Homo sapiens: one gene and its partner. The protein of the gene in region 2 interacts with the protein of the main gene of each other region in a biochemical or structural test. Each region holds a gene or a part of one and is shown on either strand. Other genes may lie near its edges.

Region 1 (3,820 bases), on a different chromosome or scaffold from region 2:
CTTAGATAAAGGATATAGGAGAGTTCTTCGTATTATTCCAACTGATTTTTTTTTGAGACCCAACTGATTTAAGTTTGAAATTACTTCAAAATATGAAATTAACAAAAAAATTAACCATGCTAAATAAAAGTCTTTCTGAAATGCTACACATAAACCTGCCTTCTTAAACTGAGTACCATAAGCAGCAATCTTTGGTAACTCAAGGCCATCACATTGTGAACACAGTGACTGCTAAGGGATCACTAAGCAGGGCTATCTATATACTCCATGGTCTTGAGCAATTGTTGAGTCTACATCTCCTAACTTTTCTCCCTTGACATAAGCTATCAGCTTTCATACTTCTAGAATGTCTGTCTCTAGCCACACGCTTGTCCCTCTCCCTTATGATGTTACTTTAATCTCCTGTGGTTGGAAAATCAGATTAATGTAGCATATAGCATGTAAAGTAACTGCCTACTAATGTTCAGGTAGTACACATCGATTTAAGAATTGCACACCTCCCATGAGTGGCCATAAGTACTATTGTTTTCCAAAGTTTCAAATTATTCTAGGTCTTCAGAAAAGAGGTGTAAATACGATTTTTAAAATGTCAATATATTTCAAATCTAAATTTTTGAAGAAAAACACTAATGGCTGACAGCCCTCTATGCACCATCAGTTAAAGACTGCTACTGCTAGAAACAGCCTACTCATTTTCTAATCCTAGCATCCCTGTGGCAAACGTATCAAATGGATTACCTGATTTTTTGAAAAGCTTTTCCAAAACATAATCGTCATTGCTCTGTTCCTTGGCCTCACTCTTGTTTTCACTGTCTTGCTTCTGGTAACGCCTTTTCTTCACCAGGTGTGGAATTCGAGTTCCTTCAAACTTGGCGTCTCTGCAATGCTTAGAGTTCTTAGGCTTTTGCTTTGGTCTCAGATGTTTCTCCAGGGTCTCTTCTTCTGCCACACTATGATGTTTTGTTTTTGACTTGTGCTTATAAAAATTATTTTCCATTTGTTTATTCTCCCAAAAAGCTTCTGTTTGAGCCTGGCTGGGTCTTTCTCTTTTGTAAGAAAGACCTAACTTTTCATCAATGCTTTCATCACCAGATGGCATAGAAGTTTTGCCTGTTCCTGAAGAATTTGAACATTCCCCATTTCCACTAATCACTGACAACTCTTCTGGTCCAGATACTGCATTTGTCTCTTCTCCAAGCCTATCATTGCTAGTTACATTACTACTCATGTGAGGGTCATCTTTCAAAGGATCACTTCGATTAGAAGTTACTGCATTTACTTCAGCTCCTTTAGCCTCAGATTTCTCTTCAGATGATGTGGCATCATTTACAGATATGTTAGAAGCAGGGAACTTCTTGCGTTTTGGAACATCATGGTCTGCTCCAAAGGCTGGTTGAATCCTTCTTTTTAGATGGCATTTGGGTGTCTGAACATCTGATCCAGTTCCTGTAAAGAGGAAAAACACCACTAATACTATATTGTATCATCTTGTGCAATTGATTACTTTAAATTAAATGATTTTATGTAATACCTGCAAAAATTGCACTTGTTTCAGTGCTCTGGGATGCATCAGGACTAGTCAGAGTAAATAGCTCATAGAGATCATTGGATTTGAAAAACCGCCTTTGTTTTGGGTCTTTTAGCACTCTATTTGTCAAAAACTGCTTGAAGATTTGTCTAAAAAAATAAAAGATAAGCTGGTATAAAACAATGTGTAGCTCTACCTAAAAATTCAAGTTATAAAGCAATATAAGAGAGAGATGATAACAGCTGCTGCATGAATGGCTAAATAATCCCCCAAACTTTCAGCCTTGGAAAATTACAATTCAGGAAATATATAATACATCAGTTAATCTCCCAGGTCTTGCAGAATTTAAATTAGAAATAATACCTTATTATTTACACCGAATGAGCTTTTTCAACCTCCAAGATCTAACACATTTCAAGAAACACCTTTTCACATGCCATCATGTGACTCATAGTCTCTCTTAGCCTCCTTGACTTGAATACCAAGGGTCCTGCCCTGCCTAGAACCTTCCTATCATAGGGCTCAGCAAACTCTCTTACCTGGGCTTTGCAATGTCTCCACTCTGACCTCTCTCTCCCTGCTCCCACCTGCAGGTCCACACTCTGCTGAAGCCCCACACCACTGCCACTCTGGAACAGGCACCTCCACCAGCCACCCTGTCCCTCCCTGTCATTTATTCTCCCAGCTAAAGCATGAATCTATAAAAGGAAGCTCTCTTCTCACAGGATCCAACTCGTCCTCCACCCTCACACAACACTCCCTCGAGGAAGATGTAATGTTCCAGGAATGGCCCAGCATGTGGTAAAGGGCACAGAGCTTCCTATAAAAGCTGGGCTATGGCTCAAGGATAAAGTCTGTGGTGGGGGAGTGGGAGAAGCTGGCAATGTCTTGATTCTACTGTTGAAGTTACCACTGTCTAAAATCCCCTAGTCATTATGGAAAGACAGAGGACGAAACAGCCATCCTGTCGACTTCTTTGTAAGGGGCATCAGAGTCAAAGACTGCCAGAACACCCACACTGATCCTACCTGCATAATGTGGTATGTAAACACCAATATGGTAACATTCAACCTTGTCATTTTTTAAAATTTTTCTGAAGGCAACACACCATAGCAGGCAGAAATATTCCTTTCAAATAACAATATGAAGTTTACATGTATGTGATTCTTGAGGTAGAATAAGGTACAAAAATTATCAGGTTCAAAGACATTTTTTGACAACTCACAGTAAGACATCTAAGCATATTTTAAAGGGAAAGAAAAAATACAAAACAAAAACCAAAGCCTTAAGTTATAGCAACTATTATTCTAAGATGTTAAGACTTTTAAAAACAACACTTTGGAAAAATTCCCTGCTCAAGACTCTGGGAACGCACAGCCAAGAGTGGCCACTGTGTGCACTGACCGGTGGTAGATCTTTTCTTCAATGGTGCCCGCAGTCAGGAGCCTGTACACAGTCACTTGCTTCTTCTGGCCTATTCTCCATGCTCGCTCCCGGGCCTGCAACAGAGAGAGAGAGACCTCTCAACGAGAATCCTTCCCAATGACAAGCACTGACTATAAGAAACAAAGCTAGCTGGTCACTACCTGTCACTCCCAGAGTTAGAATTTTGACTCATGACGTCAAGTACACCTAAGGCCTACTCAGGAAGATGAACAGCCAGTTGAAAAGACATCTCTACTTGAAAAAATGTTTGTAACTTTGCCTATGTTCTTTTTACCCCAACTCTAGGAATGAATGCTATGGATAAACTGCTGAAGATGGTTCCTGTCCATTTGACTCTGAAGGGTGTCTTCTTTCACGTTGAAGAACAGGAGACAATCAAAATGTGAAACGTATGCTGAAGCCAACCAGAACATCAAAGGACAGTCAAAAGCGCTAACCATGAAACTATATTTCTACTAATACATTCTTTTAAAAAAAAAATAAAAACAAACCTGCGTGTCCGTGCTTGGGTTCCAGTCTGGGTCATAGATGACAACTCTGTTTGCCCCCGTCAGGTTGACACCTAAGCCGCCCACCCGCGTGGTCAGAAGAAACACAAATATGGATGTGTCCTAGAGGTAAGACACACAACACTGAGCACACACACTTAAGACCAGTTACAGTTCTCAGCCTCTGCCTCCACATATTGTACACATGGAATTACTGGGCTGTTCCCAATATAAGGAATGGTAATGTCCTAGAGACCTCTGGTGAATCAAAATCTCATTTCACAGCTTTTACTTTTAATATTTAATAGAAATATTTAAAAATTGGGTTTTTAGGAGGAAAATACATGCTGTAGAAAAC
Region 2 (3,930 bases):
CTAAACAGATCATTATTATATATAGGTATTGATTGCTACCCTGACCACAGTGCTTTGGACTATGAGAAACTTCTTAGATTTTTATATGTAAATGCTGTGGACCACTGGGAGCACAATGCCCACATCATCTTAAGAAGAGTTTATGTGCAGCATTTAAATCACTGTGTTTTCCTTGTTAACTAAAACAGACATGGGCTTTGATTTTTTTCATACTATTAGACCATATCTCATAAAACCTTTTGAATTAATGAAGGTACTTGTTTCCTTTCTCAATAATGAAAATAGGCTTCTAGTTTTAGAAGGCTGAGCCGAAACTACACCTTGCCTAGGGATCAGCCCCACTGTCTTTTCTTTGTATAACTAAATCTGCATTTTCAAATGTTGTCAATCACATTTTTCTTAGAGCTGAATATCCAGGCTGTAATTCTCTAAACCCTTTTTCTTGACCTCATTGCATCATTCCACAGGTCTTGCCCCGATTTTGTCTAGCAGCTACCCATTTCTGGAGTCAGGATGTGAAACCTCTGTTCCTCTGACCTCATTAAGCTGGGGGTCTGTCTAAGTTAACGTTTGCCCTATTTGGTAACACAAAAACACACCAGACTTTTTAACCGTACGCTCATCTAACATGATTTGAGAAATTCATAACCAGGCACTCAAATATCCTTGTAGCCTACGAAAAGTGAGTAGGGTAATAATTTTTGCTTTGTAGGGAGAACTACAAATTGATATCTTTTAATCTGGCCATTTTTTAACATTTAGCTCAATATTAACAGAGAAATGTAGTCAGTATTTAGTAAAATAAATGTATTTTTAAAATATTTTTAGGAAGCTGCAGAATGGCGACTGAGTGCTTCTTGATAAGTCTGCAGTGTTAGTTCTATATAGGCTCCCTTCTGTGCTTCTGTTTTTGCAAAGACCTGTTTAAATTAAAAAGAAAATTTTAAAACAATAGGACATATGCTATTTATAAAGTTTTTCAGTTTTAAGACATCATTAGCATTTCTGTAGTAGCAAAGAGTCCTACTTAAAAAGGGCTTTCAGATTTCACAATTTTTCCCCCGATTATACAATAATTAATAAACACACATGGACAGAAAAACAATACCCAACACATTTCAAGCAATACTAATTCTAAACACCAGAAGTATCCAATTAAGACCCTGACATTGTATTAATATTAATACTTCCTTCGAGATCAAAACAAAAACCATTAGGTTAGAGAGAAATCTGGAGGCTAAGAGTTACCAAACTAACTTTTGACTTTAAAGAATATTTTCTCCAAAAACATTGCGCTTTATCAGGTTCATAAAGAAAATCAGTACTGTAGTTTCTCTCTACTCTTCCTAGGATGTCATCACAGGTCATTGTTTCCTTAGCTTTGCAGCATGCAAACAGTATTACTAGGATAGAAGCCAGTTCCACAAAACCATGTATATTCTGAGCATTAGAAGAGATGAAATTAATTATACAATCTCCTCCCCTTCCCTTCCTGAAAATATCATCTCAACTCTCAGCACTTACAGATAAATGTACATAAGCCCATGGTTTTGAGAGGTATGCAGCTCCAAAATGACAATACAGCTAAGGCTTGATGATATACAAGCATCACACTCTCCACTTCTTGACACATGCCCATTTCCCCCGATGTGATGTGACCACACAAAGACAGGAAGCTGCTCTGGGGGACATGTGCTACTTAGTCCTCTACCCTGTCCTGTTGGTGGCTTGAACACCTCAGATGCAGCTCAGCCCTTCCAGTGCTCCAAAGAACAAAGGGGCTGCTCCCTGCACTGTCAGAACTTCTCTGGACTCCAGCTGCTAGCACCACATCACTCAACCTACTTTACTGCACTTTACCCCCCTCCCCTGTCTGTTTCTATTGTCCAGGCTGAAGAAATATGGGGACAAATCATACTGATGTTTTCAAGACCACAGATGTCCCATATTCACAAATCTGTTTAGTTACCATTAATTATGACCCAATTCTGAATTTTTCCCAGCTCAATTACCACCACAAAACAACCAATATGAAAAAAAAACTTTACCTTGATTAAATTTATTCCCTCAGCAGCCTGATCCTTGGCCCCTTGAGCCGACTGGCCATCTGGATGGAGCACGTGATACAGCTGGACCAAGTTGGTTGCATCATCGATTCTGAGAATGAAAGGGTTTAATGTTATCTAGGGGTTTTCTTCATTTGATTCACAGTCCTATAAAAGTGTGTGCCAACTTCAAACTAAATTACATTTCAGACTTTCCTCAGGCTGGAGGGATTGGGGAAGGACCTTCAGTTTTACAGTTTCAAAAGCATTTTCAGGAAAATTGACTAATTTAGGCCTCACACCAACTCCGTGAGGCAGCTAGGGCAGGAGTCACTGCAGGAAGTGTCCAATTTATGAAAGTGAATATATTCCAAATGTGGCTATATTCTTTTTGGAAAAAGAGCACCATTTCTCACAGAAACAGCATTCCTAATGGTAGACAATTTCCAGGCCAGCTTACTTCACCAGCATGTAATAGTCTAATCCAACTCAGAGGACAGAAACACAGCTTCATCCCACATAAGCAGGAGGGTGGTGGTCACAGGGATCTCAAAGTCACTTGCCTCTAAGTGACATTTGCTAACAGACAAATGCCTCTACAAGAGGCCCCCTAAGATTCCAAGGAAAGGATTCACAGGAACGCATTAGTAAAATAGCATCCTAGTGAAGCAAATTTGAAATTATACACACACATCAGACAAAAAGGAAAATCGGGTTCTACATCAGCAATCTGTCTTAACTTCAGCATCACACAACTACCTATGAAGAAGACAGAACAAGAATTCAGTTCTTCTGGTCTGTACTTCTCAGAAATGTATAAACAATTTTTATCAACATTAAAACTGTCCTAGCAAAACCAAACAATCACTATCTTTTCACACAGCTGACACTTTCCCACCATTTGCCATCTCATCGCTGGAGGGCACAGAAAAACGACACTCAAAATGCTTGTGCTTTTGAGGCTCTGCTATATACACTAAGTGAACTACTGGCTTCCAGTTGGGAATGGAGGGCTGAGGACACCCTAATTCAGTGCTTCCGCAGCTAGCACTCTTCAGCCTTCCCTGCGTTCCCCTTACCTGAGCTGGGGGATGAAGAGCAGGGTGACAGTGGGAGTAAGTACAGAATTCCTCAAGCCTTGGTAGCCTTAGAGAAATGCTCTGGGCTTATACTGAGGCTCATCTACCCTAAAGGCCATCTCTCAGGAAAACAGAGCTGTTGTATCATAAAGCTTTTCAGGGGGAAAAAAATAAAAAATGTTCATCACAAATCTATTGTGCTTGTTATAATCTAACAAAGTCCACTAAATGTAGTAACGAAATGTCTCCCCAATAAAAAATTAAGATTCCCTTTGGAGCTTAGGCATGTGGCCTTATAAAGAGCTTAACTGGACTGCTACCTGTTGGTATGTTCAGGGCTTCATTAGGTTCATGCTTAAGTATAATGCCTGTGCCTCACAGAACAATTTAAATTTAGCTTAACACCCCACCCATACTTAAAGAGCAAATAAATTATATTTCGAAAAGATTTTAAAATAATCTCAATATAAAAACCAACAGTGGGAACTGAGTCTGGAATAAATGTGTGCAGAATCCTAATTCTTTTCTGAGCTCCACTCAGTGAGGATATGCACCCTCTACTGTCCAGCCTGTGGTTTGCAGTAAGCTCACTCTTCTGTTCAGAATGACCACAGGAGGGCCTTTACCTAGGAATAGCAGGAAAAGCTAAGTAAGTACTCAAACTTCCCTCCCAGTAAGCATGAATTGCTTCAGATGTAAAGCTTACATGTGATGAGTAATACTATAATATCATACATTAATATATCCTAATAAACTTTAATTTTCAAACATTTCTGCGTTGCTCTAATTTTTTGTAAGAACATACT

Evidence for each region.
Region 1: the proteins of MRPS22 (region 2) and ERCC6 form a complex in vitro, tested with the Homo sapiens proteins (one large-scale study listed by BioGRID).

The regions. Positions count from the first base shown.
Region 1 is NC_000010.11:49,469,444-49,473,263, forward strand, and holds part of ERCC6 (DNA excision repair protein ERCC-6), read right to left. Parts: intron 3,586-3,820; coding exon 3,466-3,585; intron 3,028-3,465; coding exon 2,933-3,027; intron 1,678-2,932; coding exon 1,532-1,677; intron 1,447-1,531; coding exon 739-1,446; intron 1-738. UniProt on the Homo sapiens protein: Involved in repair of DNA damage following UV irradiation, acting either in the absence of ERCC6 or synergistically with ERCC6. Involved in the regulation of gene expression.
Region 2 is NC_000003.12:139,353,909-139,357,838, reverse strand, and holds the end of MRPS22 (small ribosomal subunit protein mS22), read right to left. Parts: intron 2,158-3,930; coding exon 2,049-2,157; intron 921-2,048; coding exon 825-920; 3' UTR 710-824; downstream 1-709.